Linked DNA regions of Homo sapiens: all the other regions are linked to region 4. Evidence: fine-mapped expression QTL. A gene starts in region 4. Each other region holds a variant in brackets. All regions are shown on one strand. Distances are from middle to middle.

Region 1 (5,074 bases), 310 kb before region 4:
TATTTGAGTATTAAGAGCAAGATGTCATCACCCCTCCTTTCCTAGGACGGAACTGATTCCTGGAGAGCTTTATTCATTAGCCAGAAATCACTCACCTAGCATGACAGCTGGATAGACCCAGTCCATCTAATTCCAAAGCCCTCACCCTTTCCACAACACTACTTGCTGCACGCCTCTTGGGGGAATTCATTGTACTGTTCTCAATGATTAATCCCTATTGAATGTAATTTCACTGAACATGAATGAGTTGATTGTGAGTAGAGCTGATCCCAGTAAACACTAGTCTATTAGAGATGTGCTACTGACCAATGCTCTGCTTCTGAAAGGAAAGCCAAGCAAAGGATCTGTGAAAACAAGGTATGTTTTTAGACATGACAGATGCCATCAATCTCGCCAGAACACACTTTTCAAACCTTAACCCCTATCTAAGGCCCAGCCCCACTCTCCTCATGCTTCTGGGCTGAGCCCTAGCATCCATGTTCTCTCTGCCTGAAACTGCCTCTCCTCCCCTCTGCACCAACAAGCTTTCTCATATCCCCCCAGCCTCAGCTGTGATGCCTCATAAGGCCTCCTCCTCAGGAAGGCCCCCTCCTTAGAATGGCTCCATCTTAGAAAGGCCTGTTCCTCAGGAATATCTCCTCAGAAAGGCCTCTTCCTGAGGAAGGCTTCCTTCTTAGATGGCCTCTTCCTCAAAAAGGCCCTTTTGTTAGAATGGCCTCCTCCTCAGAGATCTTTCTGAGGAGGCTTCCCCGGCAAGGCCTTCTCCTTAGAAGCCCTCCTTCTCAGAAAAGCCTCCTCTTCTTAGGAATATCTTCTCCTCAGAAAGGCCTCTTCTTAGAAAGGCCTCCTTCTCAGAAAGGCCTTCCCCTCAGAAAGGCCCCCCTCAGAAAGTATTCCTCTGTAGAAACCCTCCTCCTCATGAAGGCCTCCTCCTCAGGAACACCTCCTCAGATTGCTCAACTCTCAGTGTCCCCGTGACACCTTGCTTTTCAGTTCGATACCAGAACTTACTACTTTGTATTTGATAATTTATCTATCTATCTGTATGTCTCTTCCCCTCTAGACTAAAACGTCCTTAAGAGAATGAAGCTAGAATTGTTCCTTTTTGCCTTTCCAGGGCCTTGCTAAATTGTCACAGGACACAGAGTAGGGTTGGATGAAGTATTTGTTGAGTAAATGAAGTCATCTTGCCCATCTTCCTGTGTTTGAGTTTAACCAAGCTTTGCCTTTTCTATTTTGGTTTTATATGTACCACATGCTGGTGCCTTCTTGCCTCCCCTTAGATGACACACTCTGCAAGCTAATAAATATTCCTCGCTGGCTGCATTCCCTCCCTGTAGCCTGTCTGCCATCCATACAGAAACACCCACAGCATGGGGACCACCTTGCCCTGTGCATTCAAGTTAAAATGAAATGATTCAACACTTCCAAAACCAGCACATAAGATGCAAATGGTTTCCAAAAAATAGACCAAAAGCCAAACTGAATAAAAACACCAAGGAAAAAAACTAGGCAGAGAGAAAGAGCTATATGTGAGCCAGGCATACCAAGAGCAGGTTTTATGAGGCCCCGAGGGGCAGAATTTTGCATGGGATACTTGTAGGTATCCCACGAAAAATGCAACTGGGGGCTTGCCAGGCATTTTCAGCTACCTCTACCTTATTGCATCTCCTCACAGCCTGCTGAAGTAGGTTGTTCCTTCTCTTTTACGTTTGCGGAAACTGAGGCTGTGTTCGTGATTTACACAAATCCAACTGGAAAAGGGGCAGGGCCCAGTCTTGATCCTCAATCTCACCATTTCTTAGTTCACTATACATTTCCGTTATCCACAGGCATTTATGAGGAAATGCTAGTTCCAAAGCCAAGCCCGTGGCGAGGCAGCTGCTGGCGTTAGCAGGTGCAGGAGACTCAAAGCTCTTTTGGCAGCAGCCCTAAGGGACTTTTTGGGGGGTTGGTGGTTAGTGGGAGATAATTTTCACTTTCATTCCCTGAAGGCAACCTCCAGGCTTGGCCATAGGGAAGTACCTGTGCCTCGCATGCCACTCACTGCCTCCTGCAGCACCTCTGAGGCCACAGCACCCAGTTCAGGTAGCCCCACCATCCGCGTCCTGCCCCACTTCCAGTGCAGTTCGAACCTGTCCTGCCTAAGGTGGGCTGGGAGTTTCCCAGGGAGACCCCCTGCTGCTGGAGAGCAGAACCAATCTGTCCTACTAGGAGGTAGGAGTGGGCAGCTTCCCATGAGGACCCTATGAGTGAGCAGACACTCACTCCCTGCTTCCCTCAGAGAAATAAATGGCCAATCCTTCCCTCCCCAATTCACACATGCATGTGGGCAATGTCTGGGTAGGCTTAGAAATACAAACACCCCTGGAAGAGGTAGCACTTGCACTAAACTCAGGTGTAGATGGCTGATATCAAGTCATTCCTGAGGTTGGGATGGAGGAGAGAAGAAGACAGCCACAAGAAGGAAAAAAACCCAACCTCCTAAAGATAGAAAATGTTGAGAAATAGGTAAGTAGTTGCAGTTCAGTGCAAACTGATGTTCTGGAAAAAATGCTTGAGCTTTGGATCGGACAGCCCAGGATTCCATTCCTGCTTCACCACCTACCAACTGTGGGTCTAGGACACGTTAACCCACCTTGCTGGGCCTCACAGTGCTCCTCAGTAGGATGGGGATCACAGTACTAGGGCAGCTGCAGGCAGGCCTGTGTGGACAGCT[A/G]AGCTTGGGATATACAATTACCAAGCCAGCCTCTGTCTTGTCCTCGCTGGTTCTGAGATTCATTGTAATAAACAAGAAGTCACGAGTGGGAAGCAGGGTCAACAGTAGCCTAGAGAAGTCCAGGCTTCCTGGGAAGGGCAGAAGCCAGGCTCTGTCGGAGCCCATGGCTGCCCCTCATTCACCGCTGATGCTCATGGGCTCTGTTAGCTCAGCACAAGCAAAAGCCTAGAGGGGAGCTCCTGGGACCCAGGGGATGGTCTGTCTGCCTCACCTGGCCAAGGTGGCTTGCTCCTGGCAGAGGGAGTTAGTCATTCCACCTCTGCCTCCTGGGAGGAGGAGTTAAGAACTGGGACTGGCCCTCTGCCCCCCTTCTCCATTGGAAAGCAAGGCCCCTTAGGCCAGCAGAAGCCAGCTGTGTCTGAGGAAGCTCTCCTCGGTGGGCTGCTTCTTCCCCTGTCCTCTCGCTCACATTTCCTGGGTGGGAGCAGTTCCAGGCAGAAAGGACAACACGGGGAGGAGGACACCTTCTGGGGGCCTCTCACAGCCCTTCCAATCCCTCTCCAGGGCCTGGGAAAGAGCCTGTTTACAGACTGGTGCTGGCTCTTCCCTCACCTGTGCGCCCCGCCCATTCCCAAAGAGCAGGGCAGTCAGTTGGCTGGTGGCCGGAAAGGCTTCGGAACACGCAGGACAGACGTCTCCTTAGCCCGCTGCAGCCCTCTCCCGCCTCTACCAACTGCGGGCAGCACCTTTGGTCGGCCTGGGGGTGAGGCACAGAGCTCCACACCCAGGCAACTCAAGTGTGTGTGTGGTAAGGGGACACTGGGAGCGGCTGGACGACCCCCTCCTGCCGAACAGACAAGAGCCCCAGGACAAACTGGGATGGAGGTGAGGGTGCAGCTGCTGCCAGATGCGCTGGGTGCTGCCCAGGAAGGAGAGGGTTGGGGAGCCGGGTGCTCACTCGCCGCAGCAGCTCACTCCTGCTCGCCAGGGAGCTCAGGGCAGCCCCTGAAGCTGCCAGATCCCCCCACGCAGGCGGCGGCGCTCTGCACTGCGGAGCCGCGTCCTGGGGGAGCAGTACCCCCAGCCCCGGCGCCCCGCAGCCAGACAGCCCCCCTCAGGGTGGCAGCATTCCCCGGCTAGGGTGCAGGGACCCCCGGGGCGAGGCGGCCGCGCATTACCTTCCACTTTGGTAAGGGTCAGGACCGGACTGTTGCAGGCGCTGAGCGGGGCCACCCGGGCCGAGTGCTTCTTCATGATGAGCCGGCCGCCTGCAGGAGCGCTGCCGCCGATCGCCTACATCCTGGGGCCGGCTGGAGCGCGTCTCTCCCGGGCCCGTGGCCGACGCGGCCCTCTGCCGCCGGGGAGCACCAGCGGCTCGCCCCTCTCAGTCCCGGCCTCCCCGGCTGCCCGCCGGGCTCCGGTTGCCGCGTTGCTCACTGCGGCGGCCGCCCTGCAGCGCACATCCTCCCCGGCCGCGCAGCCACTCCACACACACGCGCGCACAGCCTCCTACTTGGAGGTTGCTGCAAACTCCAACGTCACGTACAAGTGCACTCCCTGCTCCCACCCCGCAGCTCACCTGCTCCGCCCTCCTCCCCGGGACGCCCAGCCCCGCAGCCCTCATCCCTGTCTTCCTCCCAGCCAGGTCCTGACTGCAGCCTCTGGCCACCACCTCTCTGAGAAGCCCTTTAAAAGGACCAGCGCCTGCGGAGGGGAGACCCTGAGAACTTAAGCCTCAGCGTTGCACAAGTTTAAAAAGGGAAGTGCTTGACTTTGGATTGAGAGTTGACTCTTCAGTGTGCGGAAGTCCTGAATTATTTCACAGGGAGAGTTAGAAAAAGCAAAGCTTCCCAAGGCTGCCATTCACTTCTTGAGTCTAGAGGCACATTATCTTGTCTGGCCCCGTGGACAGCTATTTTTTTGCGGGGTGGAGTGGGGGGTGGTTCAAACACCACAGAAGCAAAACAGCCACAAGAAAACAAAGGCTTGAAGAGATTTCTGCTCCCACCCCACCGCCTCAGTCTGGAGATCCAAACTCACCTCGGTAGCAGGAAAGCTCCTTTTCTGCCCAGCTCCCAGGTTCTTGCTTCAGCTGCAGATCTGACATTTGCCTCTGCAGGCACCAGCTTCACTGCTGGCACTCAGACACAGCTGTAAGCTACTGGCCGATGGTGCTCATTAAAAAGCTATGACATATACCTATTGCATCACTTGCCAGCACAATCCCTGAGTGACCACTGAGTCCGGAGGGGCATTTATCCCATGACAGTGCATCATCAGAGGTGCCCTGCTATCATCCCTGCAGGTAGGACACACAGGGCTCATGCAGCCCCAGAACTCCCAGGGCCTTGTGTT
Region 2 (5,074 bases), 22 kb before region 4:
ACTGCCTTGCCCTCTGACTTGGGGTTGACCATGAGACTTATTTTGGCCAAATGTATTCTATATTAACAGACATGAGGAGAACACAGGCTTTAAATGTTTGTACTATTGCTTGAAGCCACTAAGACTTTATTTAAATTTAATTTAATTTTTAAATTGACAAATCAGACTTGTACATATTCATGGAGTGCATAGCCATGTTTCAATACATAATAAGGTATAGAGATCAGATCAGGGTAAGTTGCCAGGAAGCATTACACAGTAACAGCTCGCTGATACTACTTACCACCCTGCATTATTTTCGGAAGTCGAATTATATTTCAAATATATCAGAGAAGCTCTCCTTTTGAAAGGGCCCTATAATGAACCCCTTTCATAAGATTCCTTTTGTAAGTCAAGACTTTCAACAATAATAATCTAATATTAACCAAAGTTGTCACTAACTAGCCACCTTCCAAACACCAGTACTGTATTCAGCCCTTTGGATGCATTATCTCAAAATATTTTCAACAACTATCTGAACTAGAACTGTCATTTTACGGAAAAGGAAAAAGGAAAAGTAGGTTCAGAGAGGCTGACTAGTTTCCCCAGAGCCCAGGCAGTAAGCAGGTAGCGGGATTCAAACTCAGCAATGACTAATTAAGTCCATCATCTTAATCACTCTACTATATTCTCTCTCAGTAGATTTAGGTTATGTGTAAAACTGCAGGTTCCAATTATTATTATTATTTGTGAGTAAAGGAAAGGGAGAGACAGTGACTCACTCACTCAGTGATGTGCTCACATTTCTTCTAAAAAACTATTTGATAAATTACCTCTTACAGAACCCATAGTGTGACCTCAGTGCTCAGAAAATTATCCCATTTCTCCTTGGCTTTACCAGAAAATTTGCTCACTATAGGTCGACTTGACTTCCATGATTACTGCTGCCCATTGTTTATTGCTGGCAACATGTGAGGAAGCAGAGGGCTAGGGCTTATGCAGAAAATTTACAGTGCCAAGAACAGGGAAGTTGGAAGGGTTTATCAGAGGTCTTCAAACATTTTGACTTCTGTACCCTCCATAAAAGACTTCTGAAAAAAAATGTATCATGTTTGAATGTTTTCATTCATTCTGAATCTTTTCCATAATAAATTTGAAAGTTATAAGATATGATTTTCAGAATTTATAAATATTAATACTTTAAAATAAAGCTACTACATTACTTTTTATATCTATTTAAGGAATCTAATTACCATAGTTATTTGATACCAATAATAATCTATTTTAAAATACATAAATGATAGTTTTCTTTAGCAACAAGCAATTTTATACCATTCCATTTTCTCCCTTATATATTTATCTGTGAAGCATCATGGACATAGATCATACTCTGGGAGACAAAAATTAAGTATAAGAATGGAAATTCAGTTATTTAATTTTCTGTGTCCATATGTATTTTAGTGTTCAAAAATGTCTTCTGAATTGGGTTAAAATTTCAGTTTTTATTAGTACTTCAAATGAAAATTATGTAAACATCTCACAAGTTCGATAGTTATTTAACATAAAATTATTAGAATGCGTCTCTTAGTAAAATGGACGGAAATTTTTTTAAGTAGTACACGTGCCCATACATGAGTATTACTGCTAGAATGAGAGAGTTTAGCATCAATCTTATTCTTATTTTTTGTTGTTATAGGTATAAATTTTGAAAAACCATTTTGAAGTAAATTAGATGATACAAATGTAAAAATTTTCTTATGGAAATAAATATTATTCAATGAGTTAAGCTCATTCCTACTTACATATCAAAAATTACAGAGATCAATCCAGCAATCTAACTCTTTAACATTTACCCAAAGGAGTTGAAAACTTATGTTCACACAAAATCTACACATGATTGTTTGTTTATAGAAACTTTATTCATAATTACCAAAACAAATCATGATGTCTTCCAGTGGTAAATGGATGAATAAACTGTGATACAGCTAGACAATACAATGTTATTCAATGCTGAAAAGAAATGAGCTATCAAGCTAAGAAAAGATGTGCAGGAACCTTAAGTACATGTTACTAAGTGAAAGAAGCCAATTTGAAAAAGCTGCCTACCAGCAACATTTGCC[G/A]TTCTGCAATATTTGCTGTTCTGCAGCCTCCGCTGGTGATACCCAGTCAAACAGGGTCTGGAGTGAACCCCCAGCAAACTCCAACAGACCTGCAGCTGAGGGTCCTGACTGTTAGAAGGAAAACTAACAAGCAGAAAGGAATAGCATCAACATCAACAAAAAAGACAACCACACCAAAACCCCATCTGTAGGTCGCCATCATCAAAGACCAAAGGTAGATAAAACCACAAAGATGGGGAGAAACCAGAGAAGAAAAGCTGAAAATTCTAAAAATCAGAGCACCTCTTCTCCTTCAAAGGAACGCAGCTCCTTGCCAGCAACGGAACAAAGCTGGACAGAAAATGACTTTGATGAGTTGACAGAAGTAGGCTTCAGAAGATCGGTAATAACAAACTTCTCCAAGCTAAAGGAGGATGTAGGAACCCATCACAAAGAAGCTAAAAACCTTGAAAAAACATTAGATGAATGGCTAACTAGAATAAACAGCATAGAGAAGACCTTAAATGACCTGAAGGAAATGAAAACTATGGCATGAGAACTATGTGACGCTTGCAAAAGCTTCAGTAGCCGATTCAATCAAGTGGAAGAAAGGTATCAGTGATTGAAAATCAAATGAATAAAATGAAGCAAGAAGAGAAGTTTAGAGAAAAAAGAGTAAAAAGAAACGAATAAAGCCGCCAAGAAATATGAGACTATGTGAAAAGACCAAATTTACATCTGATTGGTGTACCTGAAAGTGACAGGGAGAATGGAACCGAGTTGGAAAACACTCTTCAGGATGTTATCCAGGAGAACTTCCCCAATCTAGCAAGGCAGGCCAACATTCAAATTCAGGAAATACAGAGAATGCCACAAAGATACTCCTCGAGAAGAGCAACCCCAAGACACCTAACTGTCAGATTCACCAAGGTTGAAATGAAGGAAAAAATGTTAAGGGCAGCCAGAGAGAAAGGTTGGGTTACCCACAAAGGGAAGCCTATCAGACTAACAGCGGCTCTCCCAGCAGAAACTCTACAAGCCAGAAGAGAGTGGGGGCCAATATTCAACATTCTTAAAGAAAAGAATTTTCAACCCAGAATTTCATATCCAGCCAAACTAAGCATCATAAGTGAAGGAGAAATAAAATCCTTAACAGACAAGCAAATGCTCAGAGATTTTGTCACCACCAGGCCTGCCTTACAAGAGCTCCTGAAGGAAGCACTAAACATGGAAAGAAACAACTGGTAACAGCCACTGTAAAAACATGCCAAATTGTAAAGACCATCGATGCTAGGAAGAAACTGCATCAACTAATGAGCAAAATAACCAGCTAACATCATAATGACAGGATCAAATTCACACATAACAATATTAACCTTGAATGTAAATGGGCTAAATGCTCCAATTAAAAGACACAGACTGGCAAATTGGATAAAGAGTCAAGACCCATCAGTGTGCTGTATTCAGGAGACCCATCTCATGTGCAGACACACATAGGCTCAAAATAAAGGGATGGAGGAAGATCTACCAAGCAAACGGAAAACAAAAAAAAAGCAGGGGTTGCAATCCTAGTCTCTGATAAAACAGACTTTAAACCAACAAAGATCAAAAGACACAAAGAAGGCCATTACATAATGGTAAAGGGATCAATTCAACAAGAAGAGCTAACTATTATAAATATATATGCACCCAATACTGGAGCACCCAGATTCATAAAGCAAGTCCTTAGAGACCTACAAAGAGACTCAGACTCCCACACAATAATAATGGGAGACTTTAACACCCCACTGTCAATATTAGACAGATCAACGAGACAGAAAGTTAACAAGGATATCCAGGACTTGAACTCAGCTCTGCACCAAGAGGACCTAATAGACATCTACAGAACCCTCCACCCCAAATCAACAGAATATACATTCTTCTCAGCACCACACCACACCTATTCCAAAATTGACCACATAGTTGGAAGTAAAGCACTCCTCAGCAAATGTAAAAGAACAGAAATTATAACAAACTGTCTCTCAGACCACAGTGCAATCAAACTAGAACTCAGGATTAAGAAACTCACTCAGAACCGCACATCTACATGGAAACTGAACAACCTGCTCCTGAATGACTACTGGGTAAACAACGAAATGAAGGCAGAAATACAGATGTTCTTTGAAACCAATGAGAACAAAGACACAACATACCAGAATCTCTGGGACACATTTAAAGCAGTGTGTAGAGGGAAATTTATAGCACTAAATGGCCATAAGAGAAAGCAGGAAAGATCTAAAATTGACACCATAACATCACAATTAAAAGAACAAGAGAAGCAAGAGCAAACACATTCAAAAGCTAGCAGAAGGCAAGAAATAACTAAGATCAGAGCAGAACTGAAGGAGATAGAGAAACAAAAAACCCTTCAAAAAATCAATGAACCCAACAGCTGGTTTTTTGAAAAGATCAACAAAATTGATAGACTGCTAGCAAGACTAATAAAGAAGAATCAAATAGATGCAATAAAAAATGATAAGGCAGATATCACCACCGATCCCACAGAAATACAAACTACCATCAGAGAATACTATAAACATCTCTATGCAAATAAACTAGAAAATCTAGAAGAAATTGATAAATTCCTGGACACATACACCGTCCCAAGACTAAACCAGGAAGAAGTTGAATCCCTGAATAGACCAATAACAGGCTCTGAAATTGAGGCAATAATTAATAGCATAGCAACCAAAAAAACTGTAGGACCAGATGGATTCACAGCCGAATTCTACCAGAGGTACAAAGAGGAGCTGTTACCATTCCTTCTAAAACTATTCCAATCAACAGAAAAAAAGGGAATTTTCCGTAAATCATTTTATGAGGTCAGCATCATCCTGATACCAAAGCCTGGCAGAGACACAACAAAAAAAGATAATTTTAGACCAATATTCCTGATGAACAACGATGCAAAAATCCTCAATAAAATACTGGCAAAACAAATCCAGCAGCACATCAAA
Region 3 (5,074 bases), 390 kb before region 4:
TAACACCTAGGGCACTTGCTAACACTTCGTCTAAGCCACTATCATTTCTTACCTAGATTATTATTATCCTTCTTTCATACCTTTGTCTCTTTCTTTTAAACATAAATCAGACCATGTTATTTTCTTGCTCAAAAACTTTCATTGGCTTACCATCTTCTTTGGAGTAAAAAAGGTAAATATGGGGGAAGATCTGGACATGGTTCTTTTCCTCACCCCTTCAGATCTCTGACCAAACTTCAGAGACCTTCCCAGACACCCTCTATAAAACAGTAACTACACTACCTCAATCACTTTCAGCATACCTTAATCCTTCATTTCTTTTTCTTTATCACTCACACTGTCTTTCTCTGAGATGTCACATATTTACATTTCTCAAAAAAAACCTGTCTTTATTGAGGTATGATTGACCTAAAAAAGGCAGTGCATATTTAATGTATACAATTTAATGAGTTTGGAGTAAGTACACACCCATGAACTCCACAATTAATGCCACAAATATATCCATCACCTCCAAAGTTGCCTCAGCCCTCTTTTTTTGTGTGTGTGTTAAGAACACTTAACATAAGATTTACCCTGTTAGCACGTATTTAAGTATATGCCACAGTATGAGTAGCTATAGGCACTCTACTGTACAGAAGAGCTCTAGGACTTATTCATCTTGCATAACTGAAACTTTGCACTCTGACTAACTCTTCCCTGTTTTCTGCCCCCCTTATCCTTTGGCAACCACCATTATACTCCTTGCTTCTATGAGTTTAACTGTTTTTTTTTTTTTTTTTGAGACAGGGTATTGCTCTGTCACCCAGGCTGGAGTGCAGTGGCATGATCATGGCTCACTGCAGCCTCAATCTCCAGGGCTCAAGTAATCTTCCCACCTTGGCCTCCCAAAGTGCTAAGATTACAGGCGTGAGCCACTGTGCCCGGCCCAAGCTTAACTATTTTAACTATTCCCTTATATTAGTGAGATCATATAGTATTTGTCCCTTTGTGTCTGGCTTATTTCACTTAGCATAATGTCCTCTAAGTCCATCGATGTTGCCCAGATGGCAGGATTTCCTTCTTTTGTAAGGCTGAATAGTATTACATGTTGTATACATACCACACTTTATCCATTCATCCATCAATAAACATTGAAGCTGGCTATTGTGAATCGTGCTGTGGTAACATGGGAATGCAGACATTACCTCTTTAACATACTGATTTCAGTTCCTTTGTATATATACCCAGTAACGGGATTTCTGGATCATATGGTAGTTCTATTTTTAATTTTTTGAGGTATCTCCATACTGTTTTCCATGGTGGCTGTACCCATTTTCATTTCTACAACGGTGTACAAGGGTTCCCTTTTCTCCATATTATCACTAACACTTGTTGTCTTTTGCTTATGATGGCAGCCATTCTAACAGATGTGAGGTGGTATCTCACTGTAGTTTTGATTTGCATTTCACTAATGATTAGTGATGCTGAGCATCTTTTCATATACCTATTGGCCATTTGTATGTCTTCTTTGGAGAAATGTCTATTCAGGTCCTTTGACCACATGTTTTTTTTAATTGTCTGTGTTCAGCCACTGTAGGCAAATGTTTCATTAAAAGAAAATGTAAGTTCAAGGCATTTGCAGCCTACAAGAAATTTTAGTTTCTGAGATTTTCCCTTGAGGACTGGTCCAGCCTGAACGATAAGGTCTTGGAGAGGGAACGTGGAGAAGCACAGACTGCATATATGTCTCACTAACTAGGAGTTTTACAGCCTCCTCCACAGGAATCTGTTCTTTGGGGACCAGCTGGTTATTTTGCATGCTCAGTCAAATAGCAGAGGTATCTGAGAAGTGCCGAGAGTGTGCCTGTTCCCAAAGCATCGCTGGTCCACAGGGCCCCTGGCCAACTTGCTAGATTCACAGTGAAGTGATTCTGAGCTCTATGACAAAGGTGAAGATGGAAGTGGCAAAGACAGAGATGACTGACAGCCTCCATTTATGTCTGGATACTAAGATGGCAAGTGAAGCAGTCTGGCTACTTAGGAAGGACGGACCTTCTGAACCTCTGCACATTTCCTTCCAACCTGAAACAGCCTCTCCATATCAGAAACCACTCTTCCTATTCTAAAGAGTCCATTAAAATATTGCATGGAATAAATCTACTCTGAATACTTTTGTTTGTGATAGTCCACTTAACCCAGTGAGGTTACACACTAGGTTTTTTTTTTTGAAGCAGAAAGACCCCATAGGACCATCCCTTGCAAAATGTGATTTTTTTGCGATGGACGTAGGAGATGAAGAGCAAGCTGGAGATGGGCTCTAATGACAGCTGTTAGTACTGAAATGGAATAGGCGGCTCAGGAAAGTGTCAACCTTCTGCTTTAAGAAAGCACATCCCTCCGCAAAACAGAGGGAAACAGCGCTCAGCTCTTGTTCAACAGGTACCAGAAAATAACAGCTGCTGGGCT[C/T]TCACTTCTATGTTCCTGCTTTTTCACAACTTCCACATCAGCAATGATTGGTTTGAGTTTCACTAAACTGTCAAGAGATGAACCAGGAATACATTTGTATAACACATGATCCAACAGCATTTATATCCCAGAGTGGAGAAGACACAGCAGAGTGTGTGGACCTTTACTTGGCTCCTTTAAAAGAAGTTGGAACTCAGACTCAGTGGGAACAGTGGAGCAACACCAGATCTGAGGGTGCCCGTCAGAGTCCCAGAATGGGACTCCACAGCTGTGGCAGGTGTCTGTGTTCATCTGCTGGCTGGCCTGGCTTTCTTCCTCAGGGGTGGTTATTTATTTAGGGCTTTGCAGTGGTAGAAAGGAGTATATTTAGCTCGCTATGAAAAAGAATTTTCAAATAATTGTTTAACAAGAAAAGCAGCTGAGATTTCAAAGCTGGGCTTGCTTTTGTACCCCCACACCACATTTCAGGGATCTAGGATTCTAACAGTGTGGAAAGACAACCAATGAAAATTCCAAACATTTGATGAGATTTCCTGAAGACCTTGGGCGAGCAGCACTCCCTCTCAAGCTCAGCCTGGCTCCCGTGCTTGCAATCGAGAGACTGACACTTGAGAACTGGCCTGACCAATGTGCTCTTTGCATTTGTCACCATGAAAGGGAATGGAAATTGGGTACACATCCGTGGGCAGAATGGCAATCTTCAAAGCCCAAGCTTCGCAAGGCAGCAATGCAGTATCCAATGAGCTATCTCACAGAGCTACCCCACAGATATTCAAGAACGTGTAATGGGATAGTTTAATTACCCTATGGGAATTCCAAAAGGCTTTCAGCCCAACTGTAGTCCCTTCGTCACTCATGTTAATGTCACCTGCTGTCCTTGGCCTTTCTCAGAGGAGCAGGAACAATATCTTGTCCTAGTGATCTGTCACTAAAGCAGGCTGCAGGAACACAGAGCTGCCATCACAGGGCCCAGCTGGGACAGCGAGGCACTGAGATGGGCAACCTTCCTCGCTAGACAATCATGACATTTCTCTGCATCTGGCTGAACTCAGTTTCTGCCTCAGGCCCCGTGGGCTTCAGAAATTTGCAGATATCCCCTTGCTGCTGTCTCCTTCATGGAGTTACTGGCTCTCTCCTCTTCCATGGCTTTCTCTTTGACTTTGGGTTCCCCCCCCAGGCACCCTGTAAATCTGCCCCCATAATATTCTGTGCCTCCCTCCCTCCCACCTCCACAGAGCTCTATCATGACTGTTTACATAGCTGTCTCTCCTAGCAGAGCACGATCTCTTCCTGGAAGAAGGAGCCTGTGTCTCAGTCACCTTTGTACCTTCCAGCATCTAGGATAGTGCACAATCCAAAAGTGGCAGTCAGGAAATATTTGTGAATAAATGAGCGGAACTCAGCGCTTGACGTTTAGGCAGATTTTGCCAACGTCAGCACATTTATACTGCCAGAAAGTTTAGCAAGTGGGTATCTTAAAACTGTGAACTATCAGTTGGCAGGGACGTCAGAGCTCCGACTTCCGTACTTTAGATGTAGGAAAGCTCTGGCATGGATGTGATGCATTCTGCCCAGGGTGATGGGGAGCTAGTTAGTAGCAGGGCTGAGTCTAGAACTAGGGGCTCCTGATTCAATTCCCCACTCTCTGCATTTATTTTAGTGAAGCCTTAATTGTGGCTGATGTGCTGGGTAAAGTGGAACAATCTTTACCAGAAAGAGAGTCGCTGCCCACCTACTCTGCTGGCCGAGACAGAGCCAGGAAACAGAGCCAAGCCTGTTGCAATGGTGGTTCCTTCGTTGCTTCGGCTCAACGCTGTCGAGGGACCTGTGTGGAGTGCTGAGCCTAAGGAACCTGCCTCCCTGGGTGTTGCAGGAAAGGGTATGTGGATTTGGGGTTTATTCCCTGCAACTAATTATGCAGATGTGTAGGCAATGCTCTTTGCTATTTTCAGGAGCTGTGTTAAAACTATTTAAAGACATGGGCATAGATTTGTCTTTAGAAAAGAAACATTCAGGGGAATTATCCCAAGGGCTCTCCCTCTGGCTTATGATTTATGCTTTTAGAAAACAGCCTCCTTCAAACTGAAGAGACATAACGACTTGTGGAATTCAGCATCAAATGAACAGGCTGTGTTTTCCTGGTCTCAAACCTGGAGTAAGACGAAGATGACCCCAATTCAACAGCTTTTGAAAAATCAGGATCATTCCTAAAGAGAACAGTTTTATGAAAGTTGAAATTAAAGGTTGTTATATCTCAAGGGCAAGAATGCTTATGGATGGGGTCAACTCCATAATGTGCCTTTTTGGATAACACTGATTTCTATTAATTGGAAAGCTTTTCAAGGCCAGCCCCAGGAGACTGGTGTGTCTGGGTGCACTGGTTTTGAAGGCAGATGTGCTGTTTGGGTATGTCTGTCTCTCTTTCTCTCTTCCTCACACACACAGCCAGAACTGCCTACATCCAGACCAACAGCATAGACTTTAGAGCTGGATGGATTTCCATGGCACATGCTGATGGCTTCTTGTAAATATAATTTAGATTTGACTAACCATCTAAATGTGTGCTCCCTGGCCCTGCATGTGATGCGGATCAGAGACATGCATAGTTCACCCTTGAAGACGACACAGA
Region 4 (5,074 bases):
TACCAAACAGTCATCACTGCTGTAAGCTCTCTGGCAAGCCCCCAAATCACAAACCTTGGTGATAACTTCCACAAAGCACATACAGCCAGTCACAAATAGATTTATAAAGATAAAACCTTTTTATGACTTCAAGCACCAAAGAGATGACTTTATGAAGGCTGTCATTTATACCACTGTCTTTTGTTATTAAGGAAGCAGAAAATGGAAATAAGAATAGAAAATTGCTATTTTCTAATAGAAATTTAGAAAGCAGAAGTAAAACTTGAGCGTTCTATCCATGCCCATAAGAAATATGGTTTCCAATGGGGTTTAATTTTTGTTATCCCATGCCCAGGGTTTTTCAACCAAAAAGAGAATTTGGCCCCTTGTCTTCCTTTTGTAATAAGCTACAATTTTAGCAGCAGAGGCAAGAGATTGGAAGAGATACAGACAATTTTTTTAAAGGCTTATACCCAATGAAACACAGTCTTTTAAAAGCAAGTTGCATGAAAACAAAACATTCAAATCCTGTTTCTTCCTGCAAATAATTTTAAACTAACCAGCTAACTGCTAGCATACCACTGACCTTTGCCTTGGACTCGCAGGTTTTAGGAATAATCTAAAGATAGACATTTTTTTTTAGTGATGAATATGATTAAATTACAAACGCCCGTTTTCCCCTTAAAGACCAATAAATAATGTTTCAATTTTAAGCAATAAAAGGTCGAAAAAAACTCAAAATCAACAAGCTATTAATCTAGTCTTTATTACAAATGAAAGACGTCAAGGCCCATTTCTCATACGGACTGAGGTGGCAAATGGCAATCTCTTATGTCAAACTACAGTGATGAGACCACCTAATTATGGTTATATTTATAGATATCTGGATTTCATCATAATCAACCTCTCTCTTGCAAAGTGAGAAAAAGAAATGTCCACCAAATTAGTCCTGGTGACATAAGATAATGTCTGTCTAATTGATCACAGCATCCTCAAAGCCATTAGCTAGGACCCACGGAAAGAAAAACATTTCAGCTTCTCCACCTGACACCAAACATTCAACTTGCAGGGACCAACACCACTATCTAGAATGATCCCTATAGAACCTCCTTACTGAAGACCGATAAAATCCAGGGGAGAAGGGCGTGAACGGCATCCAAAATGAAGACCCCAAGAATTGTCCTCTATCATCAGGGCTAGGAGATGCAAGGAAGAGTTAAAATCCTGGCTATGTAAGTCAGCATCTCCATCTGAGCCTGGTGAGACCTGACCGAGGGCCCTGTGAGACTTTCAGATCCGCGGGGAAGCCACACTGTCCGGGATACTTTGAGTTTCTGATCTGTTTCCCACGGTCTGCCACATAGGAGTGTCCTCCGTATTTGGCAGTGGAGAGATAAGGATACAGAGAGATCCTGTGTGTGGGAGAGGAAGGGGTGTAAGAGAACGCATCAGAACGCCTCAGAGGTCCAGGAGAACTCCGTCTCCGGGCCTCTTCCTCGAAGTTGCAAACCTGGGTCTGTATCAGCAGGCAGGGCGGGAGGGGGTGGCTGGACGCCTCACTGCGTGCGCTCCCCGAGGCTGCTGTGACAATGGTAAGAAGATGGACCAGTGAACGGGAAACATGACGTGAGGGGGTCTTACTTTTGCAGCTCGCTGCCCAGGGCTGGTAGCCATAGTAGCCAGTGATGCGCAGGATCCGCTCCTCGATGGACGTGAGCCCCACCGGCCCGCTGGTGAGATCCTCCACGGAGCGCGACCATTTCAGATCCTCCTTAATCGCCTCGTCCACCACCAAGTACTTGAGCTGCCGGAGCTGGGGGCTGATGTCGGACAGTCTCCGGGGGCTGACGTCCGGTGACCTCCTCATGCCACTGCGGTCGCAGGCGCCACGGGCAGGTGGGTGGGCAGGGGGAGCATGGACAGAGAGGAGGGGATTCGTGAGGAGCAGATCCCAGGGCGAGAGCAAGAGCGCGGCCGGGGCCCTCCGGGGGCGAGCGCCGCGGCAGAGCCCGCGCTCCTCCCTTCCCGCCGCCACTCACCCACTTCCCCGGGCAGCTGTCCCCAGTGCCCTATCCTGGGCGTCTCGGGGCAGTGCGGGTTGGGGCGAGTGGCGAGGGAAAGAATGACTGAAACTTCCCGAGCAGCTCCACCGCGCGCGCCGCCCTTCCCCGAGCCTCAGACTGCCCAGTGTCCCAGCTGCAAAGGGCTACCCCGGCGCTCCGGCCTCCCGCCCGCCGGCTCGCTCACCCACGCCCGGGGCGCTACTCACACGGCAATGCTCTTGCCCCTGGGTGCGCCGCTGGGAAACTCTCGAATCCCCATAGGCAAAGACAGAGTGGGACCGGCAGCTCCCAGACTTGAGGCGGAGGGGCCGCGGGCCGGAGCTCCCTGCAGCCGCTAGCCTGGGAAGACTGGAGTGCGCTGCCCACCGAGGGTCTGCGCCGCGCCGGCCGCCCCGGGCCGCTTTGTGCGCGCCCGCGCGGTCTGTACCCGAGCGCCTCCGCGGCGTGCGGCACGATGCAGGCGCGGCGGTTCAGCCCGGTGACTCCAGGCCGGCCCGCGCGCTCGCCGCAACGACCCGGCAGCCGAGGCAGCGCCGCGCCCCACGCCCGTCACCGTCGCCGCCGCCCTAGCACACCGCAGGCGTGAGTCTCGCCGCGACCGGGAGAGCCCTCCCAGCTGTGCGCTCTCGAGGCACCTGGTCGGGCGGGGAGGCGTCGGGTCGGGGCGCACAGGGGCCAGGCGGGGGCGCTGCTGCCCACTTCCCGCCTCCCGGGCGTGCGCTCCGCCCCGGAGCCCGCACCTCGCGCCCGCGCTCCGCCTGGAAGCCTTGGGGCACCGGACGCGCTCCTCCACCCTTCTCTTTTGACTCAAACCCTGCCGCTCCCAGTTCAGTACTTTTCTCTCTCTCTCTCACACTCTCTCTCTCTCTCTCTCTCTCTCTCTCTCTCTCTCTCTCTATGTATATGTCTGTCTCTCTCTTTCTCTAAATTAGCAAAACTACTTGGAAAGAAAGAAACCTGGTTCCATGCTCAGCATGCCAAGTGAATAAATGGCGTTTCATAGGCAACGCTGAGACACAAAATGTATTATCTATTACGCTGTGGGGATCTCTCAGTCAGACCTGGTCCTCAGAGAGCTTACTTTCCCACTGATGATGCAATTACGAAATCAGTTCTCTCTTCATAGATTTCCATTTTAAAAGCTTCTCATCTTTTTCCTTACCACCCCACTGCCCCCGACGGCCGAAAGGCATTCTCTTCAGACTACCTAATCACCTTTCCTAATATTATTTTTCATCGGGGCAAATTTAGAAAAGATAGAAGTATGTGGAGAAGAAAATATCCATTATCCAGCCAAAAATGACGACTTTCAATTATGAACGTATTCTCTTCCAGGCTTTTTTCCAACGCAAAATACAGTTGTCACAAAAATCGGAATGAAATTGTACACACTACTTTATGTACTGCTTTTTTTATATTAAAATCATATTGTATAGCAGCAAACTATGAATAGAGGGGAACTTTCTCAACTTGAAAAAGAACATTTACAAAAGCGTACAGCTAACACCATGCTTAATGGTGAGAAACTAGAAGCTTTCCTGTTAAAATAAGGAACAGGGCAAGTATGTCTCTACTCAGCAATCCTTTTCAGCATCATACTGAAAGTCCCAGCTAATGAAATTAGACAAGAAAAGGAAATTAAAAGTATACGTATTGTGAAGGAAAAGGTAAAAGAAAACTGTCTTTGCAGCTGACATGACTGTTGATGTAGAAAAATTTCAATTGACAAAAAAACTCTCCTGTTACTAATAAGCAATTATGGTAAGATTGAAGGATACAAAATTAATGTACAAAAGTCAACTGCTTTTCTATATACTAGCAACGAACAATGGGAATTTGAAATTAAAACCACAATACTATTTATATTAGCACACCACTCAAATGAAATATTTAGGTACAAATCTAATAAATATGTACAATATCTATATGAGAAAAACTACAAAACTGTGATGAAAGAAATCAAAGAACTAAATAAATAGAGAGATATTTTATGTTCATGGATGGAAAAATTTAATATTGTTAAGATGTCAGTTCTTCCCAACTTCATCTATAGATTCAAAGTAATTCCAATCAGAATCCCAGGAGGTTATTTTGTGAATATCACAAACTGATTCTCAAGTTTATATGAAAAGGCAAAAGACCCATAATAGCCAACACAATATTAAAGGAGAAGAACAAAGTCTGAGGACTGATATTGCCCAACTTCAAGACTTACTATAGTTACAGTAATCAAGACAGTGTGGTATTGGTGAAAGAGCAGACAAATAGATTAATGGAACAGAATAGAGAGGCCAAGATAGACCCACACATAGAGTCAAGTGATCTTTGACAAAGGAGCAAAAGAAATCTAATGGAGAAAAGATCACCTTTTCAACAAATGGTGCTAGAACAACTAGACATCCAATCACAAAAAAAAAAAAGAAAGAAAGAGAGAAAAAAAGAAAAGAAGCTGGATACATAGATACAGACCTTACACCTTTCACAAAAATTAACTCAAAATAGATCATAGACCTAAATATAAAATGCAAAACTATAAAACTCTTAGAAGATAAAAAGGAGAAAACCTAGGTGACCTTGGGTTTGTAAATGACATTTTAGATACAACATCAAAGGCATGATCCATGAAAGTAAAAATTGGTATTGGACTTCGTTAAGATTAATAACTTCTGCTCTACAAAAGACACTGTTAAAACAATGGGAAGAAAAGCTACAGACCAATAGAAAATATGTCAAATCATATACATGATTAAGAACTGTAATAAAAAATAAGAATAATTAGAACTCAACAATAAGAAAATGATCCCAATTAAAAAATTGGCAAAACAGCTGAACAAACATATCAATAGAGATGATATACAGATGGTAAATCAGCACATGAAAAGATGCTCCACATCATACATCATTAGGGAATTCCAAATTAAGACAAAAAAGATGTATTGCTATACACCTACTAGAATGAATAAAATCCCAAACGCTGACAACATCAAATGCTGGCAGGATGTGGAACAGCAAGAAGTCTCTCATTCATTGCT
Region 5 (5,074 bases), 360 kb before region 4:
GCTGGCTTGGCTAGGGGCATGAGGGAAAGACAGGCATCAGAAATAATGCTGAGGCTGGATGCAGTGGCTCACACCTATAATCCCAGCATTCAGGGAGGGTGAGGCGGGAGGATCGCTTGAGTCCAGGAGTTGAGGCCAGCCTGTGTAACATAGCAAGACCCCATCTCTACCAAAAAAACAAAAAGAAAAAGAAAAAGAAAAAAAGAAGAAATAATGCTGAGATTTTTGGCCTGTGCAACTGCAAGAATGGTGCTGCTGTAATTCAAGGTGGGGAGGATTGTGAGAGGAATAGAACATGAAGGGTTTGATTTTTCACATGTTATATTTGAGATGTCTACTTGCTATTCGAGGGCAGGTGTTGAACAGGCTGTTGGTTATAGGTCTTGGAATTCATGAAAGAGGTCCAGGCTGAGGGCATGCATCTGGGGGTCATCATCAGGGAGACATGAGACAGGAGGGGCTCACCTAGCGAGCAAGCGTAGACACTGCAGAGGAGAGGACAAAGGACTGAGCGTGGGGCCCTGGACTGTTCAGAGTTCAGGGAGGCCGGAGGAACCAGTAAAGCAGCCTGAGAAGGAACAGCCAGAGAGGAAGGGAGATGACACAAAAAGTTCAGTGTCCCAGGTAAACAATAAGGAGGGTTCAAGTGTTAGCTTAGGTAAAAGGAATACTGGCCAGGTATGGAGGAGCATGCCTGTAGTCCTGGCTACTCAGGAGGCTGATGTGGGAGGATCACTTGAGCCCAGGAGTTTGAAGCCAACCTGTGCAACACAGAAAGACCCCATCTCTACAAAAAATTTAGAAATTAGCAGGCATGATGGTGTGTGCCTGCAGTCCTAGCTACTCAGGAAGCTGATGTTGGAGGATCATTTCCGCCCCAGAGTTTGAGGCTGTAGTAATGATGGAGCTATGATCATGCCACTCCACTCCAGCATGGGTAACAGAGCAAGATCCTCTATCAACGAGATGAAAAAATAAAAACAAAAATTAACAGTAAGATGACAACTAAGAATGGTCACTGGATTTGGCAACATATGACTCTGATAAGAGCTCATCCATAGTGGTGTAGGTTTAAGAGAGAAAGGGAGACAGAGTACAGACTACTCTTCCGGTAAGTTTTGCTGGATTCAGAGAGATAAATAAGGTGGCACCTGGCCAGGTGTACTTTTTAAATTCTTAGAGCTATCATATTATAATGAGCGATGAACATGATCCAGCAGAAGGTGGGAACAACTGCTGGAGTGAGGTCCTTGAACAGACACCAAGTGGAAGGTTCCTTGTGCACACCTGGTGGGTTAGTCTCAGGGTGTGGTGAATGGTATTTGGATATTAATCCTTTTCAGTTATTTGTATTGCTAATATTTCTGTATTGCTAACATTTCCTCCCAATTTATGGCATTTTTTGTTGTTGTTGTTAAGACAGAGTTTTGCTCTGTCGCCCAGGCTGGAGTGTAGTGGTGTGATCTTGGCTCACTGCAACCTCTGCCTCCTGGGTTCAAGTGATTCTCCTGCCTCAGCCTCCTGAGTAGCTGGGATTACAGGTGCCTGCCACTATGCCTGGCTAATTTTTGTATTTTTAGTAGAGACAGGGCTTCACCATGTTGGCCAGGCTGGTCTCGAACTCCTGACCTCAGGTCATCTGCCCGCCTCGGCCTCCCAAATTGCTGGATTACAAGCGTGAGCCACCATGCTGGGCCAGCATCTGGACTCTTAAAAGCTCCCCTGGTGATTCTAATGTCAGCCAGCCTTGAGCACAAGTGTCCTAGCTTTCTCGTGGGTGACACTAGTAAATCTCAAGTGTTGGCTGTCTCTAAGTGCTGCTTCTAGGATGTCACCCTGCCCCAGTGGTTCTTAAACTTCAACTGCATTAGAATTACCCAGAGGATTGGGCCTCATCCCCAGAGTTTCTGTTTCAGGTCTGGGGTGGGACCTGAGACCACAATTCCAGCAAGCTCCTGGGTGGTACTCATGTTCTTGCTCCAGGGATCACATTTTGAGAACCTCCCAGCCTTAAATCAAGGCTCAAAATGCTGTTGCATACTCTCCCGAGTCAACAAAGCCCATAAATATAGACGCAAGCAAGATGAATTTTACCTAAGATTTCACAAGGGAGGTGGAACAGAGGGTTTATTTTGCATACTAAATAATAATTTTAATAAGAGTTAAAATTCTCATCAGAAATTCCTGTACTCCTTTAACATTCTTTTAGCTCTCTTTAAAATTTTTGTTCTTTTAAAATTCATATCTCTTTTAAGTTCCCCATCCTAAATAGAACCTAAATATGCCTTAACTCCTAGTCCCCAACTCCCAGATTTTTCTCATCATGCTTCTGTTAGTCTCTCCCTTTCTCAAACAGAGCTTCTCAGTTTTGGCCCCTGCAGGTAGCACCCGGACCAGGATTAGCAGGATCAGTCATCTGAGGTACATAGCAACTCCTTTTTTTTCACCAGCAGTCTTGTATGTGACTTATGTGTGTGATCCCATCAGCAGGGTACCCATATGCAAAGCCACATGATCACTGGCATATCTGCTCCGGATACAAACTGTAGCCCAGAACTGTGGCAACCTGGGAATGTAA[G/A]CAGCTTGCTCTTGTTCCAAGGCCAAGTCCATTAGTCAAAGGGCTGTTTGCCTAATAGAGACTCAGCTCTGTGTTAGAATACAAACAGTCCTGTTTTCCCAAAGCTAGCTGAATTCCAATAACCCGCACCTTGGGGCTGGAAAGGAGAAGTGGGGAACAGAGCCTGTGACTTGGTGGTGCAGAGGGTCTCACCACCTGCCCTCAGACCACAACCGGAACCGCATTCTGTACCAGTGCCTGAAGCTGTTGCAGCTTGCAGCTTACCTGCAGGATCCAGGCTGATAGTATGGGCACCAGAGAGGCTTCATTTGGCATACTCAGGTCCTAATTCTGCCAAAGTCAAATGCCAGCGGCCCTCCGGAGGACCAGGAAGGGAGTAATAAAAACAGCTTACCTAGAAGGAAGTGGAACTGTTTCTTTCTCCTGTAAGAAGAGCCAGATCCTAAAGCAGCCACTGCAACCACCACTCCCAGGACAGACACCACCATTCCTGAGTGCCAACCACATGCCAGGCACTGGAGAGGGCTTTCATTAATGCATGTATTCTCAAAGTATTTCTTATAGTCATATCAAACAAGCTTGTTACATCAGTCTATTAACCCTATCTCACAGGTGAGAAAACAGAGGCTCACAAGAAGAAATATCTCGCCTAAATGCACAGCAAGCAAGTCAGTGCCACAGCAGGGCTCTCCCCCTGCTAGTCCAACGTTATCCTTCTCACTGATAATTACTAGCACATTGCTTCACACTCTTTCTCCCTTTCCTAAAGTAACTCCCTCCCCTTTGTAGCACATTATAGAATGCCTTGAAAGTTGAGGTTTTCTTAGTCATCACTTTACCCTCCAGCATTTAATATGGAGCATGGCACATTGTAAGTGCTCAGTAAATATTTGTTGAGATGAACACCAACAGCTTCCTACCCAACCAGGCAACTGTCCTGGGGTGAGCCTTAGAGGCTGGGGAGATGTCAATACTGTGGAGATAGAAAGGTGAAGGATTTCTCATCTGCAAACCCAAGTTTGAGTCTCTGCCCTGCTGTTCACTGGCTGTACGACACTAGTTAAGCCCTTTCATTTTTCTCACTCACCTTATCCATGCATATCCTTAGCGGGTGCAATAGTGTTTCTAAATAATAACACCTCACTCCTACCAGCATGATCACTATGGGAATCCCAGGCTTGTCACACCGCTTTTGTCAGAGGCATTTGAACAAGAGTGACTCCATTTTGAATAGAGTGTGGGTAAAATGAGACCTGCTGGGCTGCATCCCCAGGAGGTTAGGCATTCTTAGTCACAGGATGAGATAGGCACAAGATACAGGTCACAAAGACCCTGCTGATAAAACAGGATGTAATAAAGAAGCCGGCCAAAACCCGCCAAAACCAAGATGGTGACAAAAGTGACAGCTGATCATCCTCACTGCTCATTATACACTAATTATAAGTCATTAGCATGCCAAAAGACACTCCCACCAGCACCATTACCATTTACAAATGCCACGGCAACATCCAGAAGTTATTCTATATGGATATAGGATAACTATATCAGTTATAGATCCAGGAATTCCCTCAGTTCCAGGAATTCCCTGCCCCTTTCCCAGAAAACTCAAATAAACCACCCCTTGTTTACCATATGATCAAGAAACAACCAGCAGCCCTTAGGGCTTCTCTGCCTATGGAGTGGCCGTTCTTTTATTCCTTTACTTTCTTAATAAACTTGCTTTCACTTTATTCTGTAAACTCACCTCTAATTCTTTCTTGCATGAGATCCAAGAACCCTTTCTTGGGGTCTGGATCAGGACTCCTTTCTGGTAACACTTTCTCGGGAGGTAGCCTGGATGGGTTGCCACCAACAAGCCCCACTTAGCATTGTGTTAGCCAAAATTTTACTTAATACAATTATTTTCATTTTTAAGGGAAAAAGAATTTCGGTCCTTAAACTCTTCCATTTTTCTAGGTTTGGCTTCATGTGAAGCAGAAAACATAAGTTGCTCATACCTGTTTTGATGTTTAACTATTTCCCTCTCATGGGAACTCTGTGTATACTTGGAGGTTACAATCGAGGGAGGCGAACACAGGAAGTCCGTGCAGTAAAGTGTCTTGTTCTTGCTGTTGGGTAACTTTGGTGGAGGAAATGGAGGGAGACGTGAGGCACTTATGTATGCGGAGTTTCTCCCGGTGCCATGTGCTTAATCAGGAAATGACTCACCTGAGCCTCATACTAACCTGACTACATTAAGATCGTTTGTTATCCCCCTTCTATAGATGAAAAAGATGAGGCTCTGCAAAGTTAAGCAGGCTGTCCATAGTATTAAGATAACTGAATTTCATATCCCAAGTCCTGACCCCAGAATGTTACCCCTCAGCCTAGGCTAGTCTTACCGTTCAAAACTCAAAGAAGGAGGACCCAGTATGGAAGACCATGATCTCCGTCCAGAGGGCTCTCTGGGATCCTGAGCAGAACTCATATAGAGAAACCCCAAGCTCCCCAGGTGAC
Region 6 (5,074 bases), 93 kb before region 4:
ATATCAAACCTATATTGAAAGCAAAATCAAAGTGAAAGGCAAGGAGTTAAATTCCATCTTTAGTTTCTGAGTTGGACTGCAATCCTAACTAACTACATACATGCTTATTGCACTAGGAATAGGGAGCTGTTTTTCACCAATGAAATGGAACGCAGCCCATGTTTTCTACTCTTTGCGTATATTAATTCTTTGCTTAGTTAGAACCCTTGTGATTCACTGTGAGTATTCATACTCACTTTAAAAATCTTTGAATATCCTCGTTACACAGCGATCAGAGTTTTTGTGATTAAGAGGATGCATTTTGTGATTTTATATAGCCCTTTAAAGGGCTTTTCTAGGAACATTGTCATATTGTGCGAGAGAGTTCAGGGGTCATTCTCATGATAAAAGGACTTTGCTTTAAAGAAGAAATCATATCCTAAATGTTGAAATGTTTTCATTTATTTATTCACTTGTTAACAAATCTTTATCATCTTCTGTGTTTGGTATACTCATGCAGTGAGGGATGCAGAGAGGTAAAGATGCCATCCCTGTTTTCACAAATGTTAAAGTCTAGAAAGGAAATTAATGCAAATAAATACACTGTAAGGTAGCACAAACAGAAAATACGAGGTATGAAAGAGTGTGCTGCAGAGCACAAATGGGCTCGGCCACTTGCATGGCAGAGGCAGCCTTTGACTGACACTGGGGGATAGAGTCTCAGTAGGCAGGAGAGCAGGGCCGGAAGGGATAAGTGGAGGCACTGAAGATGGGAAGCGAAACAGGAAACAAGCAAAGGCACAATACAGGAAAGCTGAACATGTGCTGAAATGACAGCAAACAGTCCGGCAAAGCAGAATCCCCACACGGAACAGCAGAGATCAGCCTGGATGGCATCGAACCTAGGCTTTGGCTTCCAGGAAATAAGGAGCCCTTGGAAGATATGGAGCGGCAGAGAAATAGGATAAGAGTGGTGCTTTGGGGAAACTGTTCTTGTGACGTGCTGAATGGAGGGGACAGGAGAGACAATGGACACAAGGTGACAAGGCCTAGAAGGATTAAAAGAGCTCAGAAGCTCTGCCGTGAATGATCACTCGGAATTGGTGCTAAAATATCCTGGAGTTTATATTCTAAGTCAGTGGGTAATTGGGACGCGGTGGAAAAAACGTGGGATGACCTCAGCTTGTCTCAGGAACACAGCTTAGACAAAGGGGATACCCTGGGTTGCATCTGTCCTGTCTTGTCTTCCCAGCTTGAGGCCAGGAACTGACAGTCATATCCAGATCCCTAATGCTTGCTATGTAGTAATAATGGAAAAATGAGAACTCTGACAGCTGCCGTCTGTATTGAGCATGAGGCTCAAGGGCTTTGCATAATTACCCTATTTAACTCCATCAGTAATCCTATAAAGTAAGCATCAAGGGCTGTACTCTGTAGGTGAAGAAACTGTCTGGCACCCAGAGGCTGATACTTGCAAAATATTTATTAAAGTACTCATCATTAATAAGTACCAAAATGATCACGTAAGAACACATCAGTAAAATCCTCTATTTCCCACTATCATCAGATATTAGATGTTCCTTTAACTCCTGCTGCTATAACTGTCACAAGCCACATGTGGCTATTTAAATTTAAATTAATCAACATTAGATAAAATTTAAAATTCAGTTTCTTAATAAGACTAGCCACATTCTAGGCGCTTAGCAGTCCCATGTGACTAGTGTCTACTGAGTTGAACAGTTCATTAGAGAACATCTCCATTACTGTTCTTTTTGATAGGGCTTTTTTATAATCTCGTATGATTTCCTGAGAGAAATCCCTTCCTAAGTGGAAAATCACTACACTAGTCAGGCATAGCATCTCCTCTGAAGAGTCCTCCACATTCCAGCCCTGTTCCATTACATTCCAACAAATGGTCATTCT[G/A]TATCTGGTATAATACTCAGTAAGTGTTGGGAACACAGAGAAAAATCCGACATGATTTTTGCCCCGAAAGAGTTTATAGCTACGTAGAGGAAGAAGAGATATATTAATTATATAATTAGATGCTATCATATTTGCAACACATATGACAAATCCCTGATATCCAATGCATATAACAATGAGAAGCTAGCTAGGTAGGAGAATGATTGAATTGGGCATACTCATAGGATAGAATACCACAGGGGCAGTTTAAATGATTGAACCAGACTTTATTTGCTTATAGTATGAGACATTAGAATTTAAACACGCAGAACCATAGTATATATTATATATGAATACACACATATCCATCTATAATGCTTTCGTTTTTAATTAAAAATAGACTCGAAGAAAATACGGGCTGGGCGCGGTGGCTCACTCCTATAATCCCAGCACTTTGGGAGGCCGAGGTGGGTGGATCACCTGAGGTCAGGAGTTCGAGACCAGCCTGACCAACATGGTGAAACCCCATATCTACTAAAAATACAAAAATTAGCCAAGCATGGTGGTGGGTGCCTGTAATCCCAGCTACTTGGGAAGCTGAGGAAGGAGAATTACTTGAACCTGGGAGGCGGAGGTTGCAGTGAGCCAAGATTGTGCCATTGCACTCCAGCCTGGATGACAGAGTAACACTCTGTCTCAAAAGAAAAAAAAAAGAAAGAAAATATGAACATGTTAGCAGTTGTTCATTCCCACTCAGAATATTATATTTCTCAAAATAAAAGAAGTGAAAGAGCATAGAAAAGAAAAGAATCAGTATTGTGGTGCAAGAAGGAATGGTGTGCCCCCAGGGAGAACGATGCTTATTATGAGGGTAGGAGGATCAAGAAAGGCTGAAAGTGGGATCTGAACGCATGTTTTTCCAAAGAAGACATACAAATGACCAACAGGTATATGCAAAGGTGCTCAGCCTCACTCATCATTGGAGAAATGCAAATCAAAACCACAATGAGATATCACCTCACACCCATTAGAGTGACTATCATCAAAAAGACAGTATAGATGAGGAGGTGGAGAAAAGGAAACCCTTTTTTCATTGTTGTGGGGGGAGTGTAAATTGGTACAGCTATTATGGAGAACAGTATGGAGATACCCCCAAAATTAAAACTCAAATGATCATTATGACCCATCAATCCCTCTGCTGGATATATACCCAAAGGAAATGAAATCACAAGCTCATCAGATGTCTGCACGCCCATGTTCACAGCAACACTATTCAGAAGAGCCAGGATGTGGAAGCAACGCGAGTGTTCAACCACAGGGGAGTGGAGAAAGAAATTGTGGTGTATATATGCAATGGAATAGTCAGCCTGAAAAAAGACGGAAATCCTGTCATTTGTGACAAGATAGATGAACCTGAAGGACATTATGCTATATGAAATAAGCCAGACACAAAAAGACAAATACCAGATGATCTCACTTACATGTGAAATCGAAAAACACCCCAAAATGTCAAATATAAAATGGTGGTTACAAAGAGTAAGGGGTGGGGGGTCACAGGGTCACCCAATATGGAGTCAAATCCCATTCTGCCAGTTGCCAGCTATTCAAATTTCAGCAAGCCTCTGAACCAAGTCGAACTTCAGTTTTCTCACTTTTTAAAATGGGATGAGATTGCCTGCTTGCTGAGAGTATCGAATGAGAGAGTGCAAATAAGTGCCATTCGGCACAGAGCCTGGTCCCTCCCAACCCCCAATGATGGCTAATCATTATTAATCATTGTAGAGTGGAATACCCTTGGACACACCCTATGTGTGAGTGAAAATGATCACCATGTGAGGAAATAAATGCCTTGCCATGGCACATTCCAAAGAGGGAAGGGTTTGGCAACCAGTGTGAGGCTGTCAGGGAACCCACAAATTCCCCCCAAGTCCTCATCCTCCCCTGAGGATGTCTCTTAGCTCACTTTTCCTCACCTGAATTGGCAACCCTTCCAAATTCACACCTGGTGGGCCGAGCACTAGGAATAACACATGCACATACAGAGTTGCCCCTCAGTATCCATGAGGGATTGGTTCCAAGATCCTCCTCAAATACCAAAATCCGAGGATGCTCCATTCCCGTAGATAAGTAGCATGGTGTTTGCATATAACCTACACACATCCTCCTATATACTTTGTTATCTCTAGATTACTTATAATCTCTAACACAATGTAAATGCTATGTAAATAGCTGTTATACTGTATTGTTTAGGGAACAACGATAATTTTTTAAGTCTGTACATGTTCAGTACAGACACAATTAACCGTTTTTTCCTGAATATTTTCAATTCTTGATTGGTTGAATCTATGAATGTGAAACCCAGAAATATGGAGTGCCAACTGTGTATATATATAAAATATTAATAAAATGCTCCAACTGTTCAAAGATGTCAATAAAATGCCCACAGTTGAGGACAATTCAATTTTGTTCAATTGATAAGTCTGCCAGGCACTCAGAATAAAGATAAGAAAAACTTTGCTTTCCTCTTCTCTCAAGCTATGCTAATCCTAAAGGAGCCAGAAAGAAATGCTAGAAAAATATACTAGAATGGGGGTTAACCAAGAGGCTGCAGATGTTTGATTTAGCAGTAGGCACAGGTCCCACCCGTTACAGTCCTGCCTCCTTGCTGCAGGAGGGATGTAGTCCACAGGCTCACTGACTTTTGAAGGCTGCTGAACTTGTAACAATGGGGTGCCCAGATGCATGCCATGAGACACGTGCTGTTTACCAGGGATAAGCAGGGACCTTTGCCTTCCTCTCCTCTGCTGCTGTTGTTATACTGAGACTTGTCCAAGAAAAGCCTCCGCGTGAAGTCATCAGAAAATATGTAGAAGCAATTTGGGATGCTGACTGCCTGGCTGACTTTATCACAGATCAAAGCAGCTTTCCCATCAAAGATCAGTAATCAGTCTTAACACAAGTGGAGGGATCAGGCATCCTTAACACTTCATTTAAAATAAATGCTCGCCCATGAATATGGGAATATACAGGCAGAAACGCCAGCCAGGCTCAGGTTTATCCATCTGGCCAGGGGCTCCCACCCTCTATCTCCACAGCTTGCAATCATGCCTGACTCTCCTGCCATCTCCTTCACAACAAACCATTCTCTGCCCTCATTCAGAAGCACTAATGGCAAATCCCCACTCCATGAACC

Which allele goes with the higher level. Alleles are on the strand shown, and positions count from the first base shown. SD is a standard deviation of normalised expression in the study named. Not every link is listed here.
For the expression in substantia nigra of the gene that starts at base 2,703 in region 4, G is the high allele of the variant in region 1 and A is the other (small effect, 0.36 SD a copy in GTEx).
For the expression in stomach of the gene that starts at base 2,703 in region 4, allele G in region 5 goes with a lower level than allele A (moderate effect, 0.51 SD a copy in GTEx).
For the expression in thyroid of the gene that starts at base 2,703 in region 4, G is the high allele of the variant in region 6 and A is the other (moderate effect, 0.47 SD a copy in GTEx).

Evidence for each region.
Region 1: its variant is fine-mapped to the expression of SLC35F3 in substantia nigra (GTEx, PIP 0.98). The same link has a PIP of 0.9 or more in spinal cord.
Region 2: its variant is fine-mapped to the expression of SLC35F3 in thyroid (GTEx, PIP 0.90).
Region 3: its variant is fine-mapped to the expression of SLC35F3 in whole blood (TOPMed, PIP above 0.99).
Region 5: its variant is fine-mapped to the expression of SLC35F3 in stomach (GTEx, PIP above 0.99). The same link has a PIP of 0.9 or more in cerebellum, sun-exposed skin and unexposed skin.
Region 6: its variant is fine-mapped to the expression of SLC35F3 in thyroid (GTEx, PIP above 0.99).

What each region holds. Positions count from the first base shown.
Region 1 is chr1:234,213,398-234,218,471 of GRCh38, reverse strand. All of the region lies in intron 2 of SLC35F3 (solute carrier family 35 member F3), which reads right to left. LOC124904553 (a long non-coding RNA gene) reads left to right here and starts at 3,390. Exons shown (of 2, transcript XR_007066948.1): 1 at 3,390-3,604; 2 at 4,361-5,074. RefSeq lists an enhancer at 2,076-2,165 and silencers at 3,675-3,794, 3,845-3,944, 4,045-4,144. The variant A/G (reference allele first, on the strand shown) is at 2,720.
Region 2 is chr1:233,924,019-233,929,092 of GRCh38, reverse strand. The region is part of intron 2 of SLC35F3 (solute carrier family 35 member F3); the gene reads right to left. Among named protein-coding and RNA genes, the nearest start is that of SLC35F3, 22 kb to the right of the region's middle. The variant G/A (reference allele first, on the strand shown) is at 2,100.
Region 3 is chr1:234,293,449-234,298,522 of GRCh38, reverse strand. The region is part of intron 3 of SLC35F3 (solute carrier family 35 member F3); the gene reads right to left. Among named protein-coding and RNA genes, the nearest start is that of MIR4671, 10 kb to the left of the region's middle. The variant C/T (reference allele first, on the strand shown) is at 2,446.
Region 4 is chr1:233,902,305-233,907,378 of GRCh38, reverse strand. SLC35F3 (solute carrier family 35 member F3) reads right to left here and starts at 2,703. Exons shown (of 8, transcript NM_173508.4): 1 at 2,249-2,703; 2 at 1,621-1,850. The coding sequence starts at 2,301.
Region 5 is chr1:234,260,451-234,265,524 of GRCh38, reverse strand. The region is part of intron 3 of SLC35F3 (solute carrier family 35 member F3); the gene reads right to left. Among named protein-coding and RNA genes, the nearest start is that of SLC35F3-AS1, 10 kb to the left of the region's middle. The variant G/A (reference allele first, on the strand shown) is at 2,579.
Region 6 is chr1:233,995,275-234,000,348 of GRCh38, reverse strand. The region is part of intron 2 of SLC35F3 (solute carrier family 35 member F3); the gene reads right to left. Among named protein-coding and RNA genes, the nearest start is that of SLC35F3, 93 kb to the right of the region's middle. The variant G/A (reference allele first, on the strand shown) is at 1,903.